Regions from separate parts of the Homo sapiens genome. Here region 2 is linked to region 1. The links come from fine-mapping of genetic effects on gene expression. A gene starts in region 1. The other region holds a variant in brackets. All regions are shown on one strand. Distances are between the middles of the regions. Region 1 holds the start of DNAH17-AS1 (DNAH17 antisense RNA 1). Region 2 overlaps DNAH17 (dynein axonemal heavy chain 17).

The links.
Region 2: its variant is fine-mapped to the expression of DNAH17-AS1 in hippocampus (GTEx, PIP 0.99).

What each region holds. Positions count from the first base shown.
Region 1 is chr17:78,482,865-78,487,864 of GRCh38, reverse strand. DNAH17-AS1 (DNAH17 antisense RNA 1) reads right to left here and starts at 2,955. Exons shown (of 6, transcript NR_102401.1): 1 at 2,703-2,955. DNAH17 (dynein axonemal heavy chain 17) reads left to right here. Exons shown (of 81, transcript NM_173628.4): 45 at 1,359-1,641; 46 at 1,732-1,905; 47 at 2,108-2,315; 48 at 2,832-2,997. RefSeq lists a silencer at 2,923-3,152 and enhancers at 3,223-3,272, 3,303-3,442.
Region 2 is chr17:78,556,190-78,561,189 of GRCh38, reverse strand. DNAH17 (dynein axonemal heavy chain 17) reads left to right here. Exons shown (of 81, transcript NM_173628.4): 13 at 255-450; 14 at 2,936-3,082. Among named protein-coding and RNA genes, the nearest start is that of DNAH17, 19 kb to the left of the region's middle. RefSeq lists an enhancer at 2,064-3,263. The variant C/T (reference allele first, on the strand shown) is at 1,893.

The DNA.
Region 1 (5,000 bases):
GGAGCTCCCCCAGAGCACACTCACAGAAGAGTGTGTGTCTGGCCAAGCACAGTGCCTCATGTCTGTAATCGCAGCACTTTGGGAAGCTGAGGCGGGCAGATCATCTAAGGTCAGGAGTTCAAGACCAGCCTGGCCAACGTGGCGAAACCCTGTCTCTACTAAAAATATGAAAATTAGCCAGGTGTGATGGTGCACGCCTGTGATCCCAGCTACTTGGAAGGCCGAAACAGGAGAATTGCTTGAACCCAGGAGGCAGAAGTTGCAGTGAGCCGAGATCGCACCCCTGCACTACAGAGCAAGACTCCATCTCAGAAGAAGAAAAAAAATGAGTCTCTGTCTAAAGAGGCACGTCTGCCGGTCAGCGCAGGGCAGGCTGGCTGTGTGTGTTAACAGGAGCTTCCTGCTTAGGCCCTGGGCATCCTGGAAATGATGCACGTGCTGAGCTCACTGGCACTCGAGGGGGCCAGGCACTAGTGATGCTTTCAGCAGATGCTGATTTGGCAACACTTACCCTGGACCAGGCCCCCTTCTCTGAGCTTTAAAAATATCAGCCCATGTAGTCCTTGGAAATGAGGGTCATGGAAACATCACCCCTGTTTACAGATGAGAAACCAGGGACTCAGGCATGTGCAGTAACCTGCCTAAAGCAGCAGCTGGCCATGGTAGAGCTGACTCAAGCCTGGGCAGTCAGGCCCCAGAGTCCACACCCCTCACCGCCGTGGTGGGCCACCTCCACACGAGCCACCCAGAGATGTCTGTGGCCAACAGTCTGGCACGGCTCTTCAAGGATTGCTGGTTGTATTGATTTGTACTCTTACACTGAACATGGCAAATTCAACTCAAACTAACTGAAGCTTAAAAAAAAAAAAAAAAAAAAAGCACCAAGGGGTGCTTCAGGCATGGCTGGATTCAGGAGTCCAGATGATGTAATGAAATGTCCCTGCTCCTATCCTTGTCTCTCCTTTCTGCTCCCTTACTGTCCCCACCTTCGTGCCCCCCACATGACATCATGAGATCTTTCTCCTTTTCTGTTCTGCCCCATCCACCAGCCCTTGGTATGTGCTTCCCGTGTGGTAGCAAGAATGGCTTCCAACTGTTCTAGACCTACAGCACCCCCATAGCTAGCAACCCCAGAGAGGGCACAGCCCCCACGACCCTGGCATCCTCCTCCGACCCTTTCAGGGCCTGCAACTGGCCCCTCTGGCACCCTCGTTTGGACCCATTGCCATGCAGGCATGGTGACCCTGAGGGCAGCCCCAGCAGAATTGGGTGGAGGTAGGGAGGGGCGTTTACCAAGGCAGGGACACTGGCAGACCCAGAGCAGCGGCTGTGTCATCGGCGCCTCCTGTCACCCCCAGGGTGGTGAGCAGCTGGATCGAGAGGCGCAAGGTGCAGTCGGAGAAGGCCAACCTGATGATCCTCTTTGACAAGTACCTGCCCACGTGCCTGGACAAGTTGCGCTTTGGGTTCAAGAAGATCACGCCAGTGCCGGAGATCACGGTGATCCAAACGATTCTGTACCTGCTGGAGTGCCTGCTCACGGAGAAGACCGTGCCCCCCGACTCCCCCAGGGAGCTGTACGAGCTGTACTTCGTGTTCACCTGCTTCTGGGCCTTCGGTGGCGCCATGTTCCAGGACCAGGTGATGCACCTGGGGGGCCCGGCCACCCACACAGGGTCTCTCAGCATCCTGCTTAGCTGGGCCCTGATTTTTACTTCTGTGTCTCAACAGCTTGTGGATTATCGAGTGGAGTTCAGTAAATGGTGGATCAACGAATTCAAGACTATCAAGTTCCCCTCGCAGGGAACGATTTTTGACTACTACATTGATCCTGACACAAAAAAGTTCCTGCCCTGGACAGATAAAGTGCCCTCCTTTGAGCTGGATCCCGATGTCCCACTGCAGGTAACTGTCCCCAAAGCAGGGCCACCGACTGGTGATTTAGAGGCAGGAATCGGTGCAGTACCCTCCACACGCCTGCACGGAATGTCCAAACACAACCGATTTTCAACATTAGGACCTGTTCGGTAGAACATGGCCTGCACACCCACGAGAGGCAGAAGTGTCTGAGAATCACAGCTCCCTCCCCTTCCCTCCCCTGCCCCAGGCCTCTTTGGTCCACACCACGGAAACCATCCGCATCCGCTACTTCATGGACCTGCTCATGGAGAAGTCCTGGCCGGTGATGCTGGTGGGGAACGCGGGGACGGGCAAGTCGGTGCTGATGGGGGACAAGCTGGAAAGCCTGAACACGGACAACTACCTGGTGCAGGCTGTGCCCTTCAACTTCTACACGACCTCAGCCATGCTGCAGGGTGAGGCTGGTCCGGCCACGCCCTGCCTACCCGGCTGCCCCCCGCCAGTCCCCGTTCCCTCCTGTCCCCTCTCACTGCAGGCCCAGGCACTCACTAGCCACTTTGCACCTCCTCACTTCCCATGCCCCACCCGCTGGCCTTTCCTTCCTGAGTCGGAGACAGAGGAGGAGCAGCCGGGACCCCTCTTTCTGGTGCTCCCTTGTGGGCATGGTGATGGGGTTTTGATGGCCAGTCGAGGCAGCAGGTCCCCCGGGAGTGTCTCAGCCAATCTAAGGCGACCCAAAGGTGACGGAGAGCAAGGTTCCTGCCACCCTCGCCTCTGATCGCTCTGTTTATTCCTGGGGCTGTACCCGGTGCCCCCTCAAGGGCCACTCCCAGGGCAGGTACCTTTGGTAAACTTGGATCCCAGCCAGGTCCCACCTTCTGTCCTCCGGGGAAGCAGGTAGCGCCCCTCCCTACCTAACAGGCTCTGGCTCAGGAGGCGCAGGCGGGCAGCTGACCCTCTGCCCTCTCTAGGGGTGCTGGAGAAGCCGCTGGAGAAGAAATCGGGGAGGAACTACGGGCCGCCAGGCACTAAGAAGCTCGTCTACTTCATCGACGACATGAACATGCCCGAGGTGGACAAGTATGGGACGGTGGCCCCGCACACCCTCATCCGGCAGCACATGGACCACCGGCACTGGTTAGACGGGGCGGGGCCGGAGGGGAAGGCGTGGCCCCGGGGCGGTGAGGGCGGGGCCAGGGCGGGGCGCAGGAAGAGGCGGAGCCCCAGGGCAGTAGGGCAGGACTGGTGTGGGGCGGTGGGGGGGGTGCTGCAACGTGGGTAGGGAGACACGGGTCGTAGCTGGGCCCCCAAGTTTGTGGGGCCACAAGGCATTGAGGTAGGGCCAGGGTAGGGGAGAGGTTCTATCAGTTTCGTCCATCACCCATTTCACAAACATGCAGCAGTGGCCTAGAGCCCCCGCGGAGGGGGGGATCCTCCTTCCCCCCTTCCACCGAGGTGTCTGTCCCGCCGGGAGAGGAAGAAGCACATTACCCGGTAAAGGAAGAGCCCTGAGGAAAACCCCCAGTGCAGTCACAGAGGAGCCTCCCAGCTGGGAGCCCCAGCAGAGAGATGCCCCTGGGGAGATGGTGCACAGCTGGAAGCTGGCAGCAGTGTCCTGCTGGCTGTGGGACCTTAGAGGGAGAGCATTCTGGGTGGAGAGATTGCCACGTGTAAATGCCCTGCCACACGTGAAGAAGCCCAGGAAGGCCGGTGTGGCAAGGATGTGAGAGCCAGAGGCAGAGGGTGCCCAGGGCAGCTGCAGCCAGAATCCCAGGGCCTCGGGACAGAGTGCAGATTTTCTCCTAACGGCACCGAGAAACCAAAGGTGGCACGTTTAGGTTTGCAGTTTGGAAAGATGAGAACATTCAGTTCAGTTGTCTTTTTTTTTTTTTTTTTTTTTTTTTTTTTTGAGGAGAAATCTCGCTCTGTCTCTCAGGCTGGAGTGCAATGGCTCGATCTTGGCTTACTGCAACCTCCGCCTCCTGGGTTCAAGGAATTCTCCTTCCTCAGCCTCCTGAGTAGCTGGTAATACAGGTGCCCACCACCACGCCGGCTAATTTTTGTACTTTTAGTAGAGAAGGGGTTTCGCCATGTTGGCCAGGCTGTTCTCGAACTCCTGACCTCAGGTGATCCGCCCGCCTTGGCCTCACAAAGTGCTGGGATTAGAGGTGTGAGCCACCGTGCCCAGCCATAGTTGTCTCTTAAAATAAGCAAGTAGCTCAGGCCAAAAGAGCCTAGAAACTAGTCTGCTCGTTCATGAAGCCTGGCCTCATGCCGAGAAAGGCAGGCATGGGGGGTTAGGTAGTCTACTTGAGGTCATGGTCCTAATGAGTGGCGGAGCTGGGTTATTATTATTATTATTATTATTATTTCCAAGACAGAGTTTCGCTCTTGCTGCCCAGGCTGGAGTCCAATGGCGTGATCTTGGCTCACTGCAACCTCTGCCTCCTGGGTTCCAGCGATTCTCCTGCCTCAGTCTCCCAAGTAGCTGAAATTATAGGTGCCTGCCACCATGCCCACCTAATTTTTGTATTTTTAGTAGAAACGGGGCTTAACTATATTGGCCAGGCAGGTCTCTAACTCCTGACCTCAGGTGATCTGCCCGCCTCGGGCTCCCAAAGTGCTGGGACTACAGGCGTGAGCCACCACGCTCAGCCAGAACTGGATTTTGAGTTCAGATATGTCTGACTCCATCACTTGCCTTTTCCTCACTAAACGACACTCCCAGAGCTCACGACTATAGGAAGCCTACTCTGGGCTGCAGGCTGTGATGTGGGGACGGAGGCATCAGAGGTGGCTCCCTGGGGGAGGTGACAAAGCTGCCACTCTGAGGAGGGAGCCTGGAGAGAGTTTGACATCATTTGAGGAGAACCTAACGTGGTGTGGGGTGGGAGATTTGAGGGTACCCAGACAGGAGAGGAGGACAGGTGCATGCATGAGAGCCCACCCGTTCCTCTCTGCAGGCAGGTCTACTGTGAGGGCTGTGGCGGCTCAGCCTCGGTTTCCCTGCAACTCGCGAGGCCCCTTCCAAGGGTTGCACACGGTCATGTGCCCTTGTAAAATTTGTTTAAGATTTTTGCTTTCTTTTCCTCAAGGAGGAGCCTCCACATTCTTAAGCTTCAGCCCTAGGTCCACATCTG
Region 2 (5,000 bases), 73 kb before region 1:
GCCTGGCGGTCGGGAGCCAGTTGCTGCGTGGGTTCTATTTTGGCCTCCTGGGCTGGTGGCTGCAGACTGCAGGTCGGAGTTCCATTTGAACATTTGGTCTGGCCACTGCTTGTTTGCATATTCAGTCTGTGAGCCTCGAGTAATTGGGTGGCCGGCCGCTTCGGCACCCCAGATCGGGCAGCAACGATGGGACGTGCCGAAGACACCCCACAGGAGATATCCAGTGGGGCCTCGCCTTCCCGCTCTGATTCCAGGGTCATGTCTGGAGCAGAGGCCAAGCTGACCTATCAGAAGTATGACGAGATGATGGAGCTGCTGAGGTGCCACCGCGAGAAGATCTACCAGCAGTGGGTGGCGGGCGTGGACCAGGACTGCCACTTTAACCTGGGGCAGCCGCTGATTCTGCGGGACGCCGCTAGCAACCTCATCCACGTCAACTTCAGCAAAGCGGTGGGTGCCAGGAGTGGGGACCGCGTCAAAGGCTCCTTGGGAGCGGGGGGAGGGCCTGCCAAGGTTCCCTCAGCACGGATTTATGGAGGTCGATGTTTATATCACAGTTCGCCTAAAGCTTTACTTCTTAAGTGTGTCCAGGGTATATTTAAGACATGAGGGAAAGCAGAAGCAACTTTGACAATAGCTTCAATGAGTATCTTCTTGAAAGCGTTCCTGTGATCCCAAGAAGAAATGACAATTTGAAACTGGGGGGGGGGAAAAAGTCTTTGCCGAATCTAGATAAATGCACTGGCTGGTCAAGGCAGGCACACTGGGGAGAATTCACACTTGTGGGCTCTGGGATGTGGGTTCTATGGCTAAAACCCGGAAAGTTCAGATGAGCAGAGGATGGAACCGAATTCCTACAAGCACAGCCCCAGAGCTGCCCAATCTGCACGTGGCAAGGCAGGGAAACCAGAGATGCGGCTCTTCCTTGGAAATCTTCCCACTCACTAACATTCATTCTTTCGTTCACCAAATACTTACTGAGCACCTACTACATGTATGTGCTTGGGATAAATTAGTGATCCAGACAGTCAGAGAGCTGTCTGTCCTGCCCTCCTAGAGCCTACCTCCAGGCAGGAGGGCGGGGAGGATGATCAGCTAGCATTCACGAGGGAGTCAAGTGTATGATATGGTAGAAGGTGCAACAGGTTCCGCGGAAGGAAGAGCAGGAAGGGCAGGTTAAGAAGATCAATAGAGCCGGTAGAAGGGGCAGGTGCAATTTTAGATGTGAGCAGAGACTTGTGGGAGGTCAGAGTGCCGCTGAGCAGAGATGGAGGGAACAGCTTTGCAGCACGGCATGCGGGTAAAGAAAAGGCCAGGTGGCGCCCGAGAGCCTGGTGCAGTCCAGGAGCAGCAAGGAGGCCAGTGGGGCGGGGGAATGGGCAAAGGGGAAGGTCGTAGGAGAAGAGATGAGAGGTGACGAGGAAGGGCCCCATGGACCACAGAGGGACTTGGAGTTTGGTTTGAGCAAGATGGCAGCCCCTGCAGGGTGTCAGACAGAGGTGTGCTGCGATTAGATTTCTAGTTGTAAAGGACCCTTCTCCACGCTGTGAGGTGCGTAGATTGAACGGAGCTGGGGCTGGAGGAAAGAGCAGGAAAATCAGTTGGGAGCCTGTTGGCACAGTCCAGGCAAGAGATGACAGCTGGGAGGTGGTGGCTGGAACCAGAGTGGCAGCAGTGAAGGTGGTGGTGAGCTTCTGGACTTGAATATAGTGCCATGGAGACTCCTAGTAGGTTGGAAATGGAGCGTGATTGGAAGAGGGGAGTCAGTCCCAATGTTTTAGGGTCAGGTGAGTAGACAGGTAGAATTGCCATTGGCCAAGAGGGCAGGTGGGGCAGAGGCCACAGGGGAGGATGGGCTGCTGTGCTTTAGCCTTGTTGGGTGTGAGATGTCA[C/T]CTGGACATCCAAAGAGAGGAGCTGAGTAGGCGGGTGGATACAGAAGGCTGGAAGTCACGAGAGAGGCTGGGGTTGGAGACATAAACGTGGGAGCCACCCACACAGAGATGGTACTTGTAGCCACAACACTGGACATCTCATTACCTCATTCAGCGGAGATGACAAATGGGCTGGCTGGTCAAGGCAGCTATAACGTTGGATGACATCACACCTCATTCAACTGAGGGTAAATTGAGAAGGAACAAGGTCTGTGGCTCCCCATCATGGACATCTTGAGATTATCAAAAGAGACTAATAATGGTGACCAGGAATGTCTAGTGTCCTGGAAGCCAGGAGGACACTGTGTGCCCAGAAGGAAAGAGTGCCAGCGGCTGGGCGATCCCATGAGATGAGGCCCGTGATGTGACCAGTGGATTCAGCAATATGGAGGTTATCTCAACTTTGAGAATAGCTTTGTGGACAGAAGCACTGTTGGAAGGGATGTCCCTGTTGTTGATCTCGGGTCATAACCGGGTGAAAGCAGAGAGAAAACAGAAGGTTAGATTCCAGCGAGGAAACAAGTGAAGACCCGAAGTCTTACTCCAAACCACTTGTGGGTAGTAGGTAGGAGAGGACAGAGATAAGAAAATTAGGATGATGTCAGCCACCCATGGTGATGATGATATCATCCACCTACAATGATGACATCATCCACCCATAAGGATAATGTCACCCACCCGTGGTGATGACAATGATGTCATACACATGCAATGATGATGTCATCCACCCATGAGGGTGATGTCATCCACCCATGAGGGTGATGTCATCCACCCATGAGGGTGATGTCATCCACCCATGAGGGTGATGTCAGTGCTTTCCGGCTCAGGATCAGCCAACAGGGTGAAAACGTCCTGGTCCTGCCAACAAATACTGCCTCCCACCAACTTTGAGATCCCCCCCGGCTGTCAAAACATCCCAGGGCAGATGCTCATTTCTGTTGCTTGAACACTGCACTGTTGACCTGACCTGCTGACATGTTCTTTGATCTTCGTTTGTCATTTAGTTGGTGGCAGTTCTGAGAGAAGTCAAGTATTTGAATTTCCAGCAACAGAAAGAGATTCCAGACAGTGCGGAGAGTCTGTTCTCAGAGAACGAAACTTTCCGGAAGTTTGTGGGCAACCTGGAGCTCATCGTTGGCTGGTATAATGAGGTGAGTTGGTGAGTCGGTACTATTCCTGATGCAGCTTTGTATTGTTTTGGTTTTTTGTCAAGTTTGTTTGTGTGTTTCAGAGATGTGGCTCTTCCTGGGAAATCTTCCCATTCACTCAAATTCATTCTTCCATTCACTGCATACTTACTGAGTACCTGCTATGTGTATGTGCTTGGGATAAATTCCTGAGCCAGGGAGTCAGAGATCTCTGTCCTGCCGTCCTGTTCTGTTCCACTTGGAGATCTTACACCAGCATTTGTTGTCACCCAACAACTTCTGGTGTAAGATCTCCAAGCAGAACAGAATTAAATTAGTGTGTATTTTAATATTTAGACATGGTTCAAGCCAGTCTTCATTATTCATGCAAATAGCAGCAAAGATAGTGATGACTCAGAACAGCTGGTGATGAATATCTTATTCCCACTGGGCTTTGGCTTACGTTACTTTTTTTTTTTTTTTTTTTTTTTTTTTGAGACAGTCTCACTCTGTCACCCAGGCTGGAGTGCAGTGGCACAATCTAGGCTCACTGTAACCTCTGCCTCCCAAGTTCAAGCGATTCTCCTGGCTCAGCCTCCTGAGTAGCTGGGACTACAGGCGTGTACCACCAAGCCCAGCTGGTGGTAGTAAAAATACAAATAATTTTTGTATTTTTAGTAGAGACACAGTTTCACCACATTGGCCAGGCTGGTCTCGAACTCTTGACCTTAGGTGATTTGCCCGCCTCTGCCTCCCAAAGTGTTGGGATTACAGGCATAAGGCCCCAAGCCTGGCCAATTACATGATTCTTTATAGATCTATTTACCCTCCTGAACAAATTTTGGATAATATTAAAGTCATTCAACATTGCTTCCATTACTTCTGTTAATGTGGGGAGGACTGGATGGGCATTTCCTGGAACCCAGAGTAGGATTATCATGAGGAAGCTGTGTGTGAGGGGCTAGGAGGTGGCGGTCCCTGCTCAGCTCTTTGGTTCAAGAACTCCTTTTTGGCCTTGATTCCTGGCACCATCTGATCTAGGGACCTGACGCAGTAATCAAGAGGTTGACTTTGGAAAAACTTCCCAGTAATTGTTGGAGGTGGGGGGCGGTCCCGTCCAGCAACACAGGGCTTGTTGAGGGCACCTCCTTCCTGGCACGAGGCCCTGGAAGCCGAGTCGGGAACCGGAGGGCAATGGTATCATACGTGTTCTGTTTTCTCTGTCTGCTTTCACTCGGTTAATTATTTTGAGTTAATCTATGTTGTTGCATGTAGCACCATTCTTCTTCTTTTTAAACGTGAGTCAATTTTATTGCTGAGTGGCAATGTGTCGCATGGATATAGCACTATTATCCATTCCTCTGTTGATGGGCATTCGGGTTGTTTTCAGTTTTCGCTTTTACAAATAAAGCTGCTACAAACATCCCTGTACAATCAGGAGGGGCCCGGAGAGCGTGGCTGTGGGGCTCAGCGGGCAGTCACTGTGCTTGTCCTCCTTCTAGACACCATTTCTTATGGATTCCACTCATATACCCTGGGAAAGGCGACCATTTGTACCATACAACTTTGACCCCACCCCAAGCCACAGTACAACAGGGCCAGTCTGGACACTGTTCATTTCCTGTTGCTGCTGTAACAAATCACCACAAACTGAGTGACTTTAAACGGCACGTATTTCCTACCTTCTAGTTCTGGAGGTCAGAAGTCCTGGATCTGTTTCATTCTGCTGGAGTCAAGGCATCCGCTGGGCTGCCTCCTTCTGGAGGCTCAAGGGGATGGTCTGTCTCCTTGTCTTTTCCAGCGTCTAGAGGCTGCACCTTCCTGGGCTCATGGCCATTGTATTAGTTAGAGTTCTCCAGAGAAACAGAACCAATGGGATAGACAGATGGGAGGATGGAGGGATGGATGGATAGATAGATCGGTAGCTAGAGAGATAGGAAAG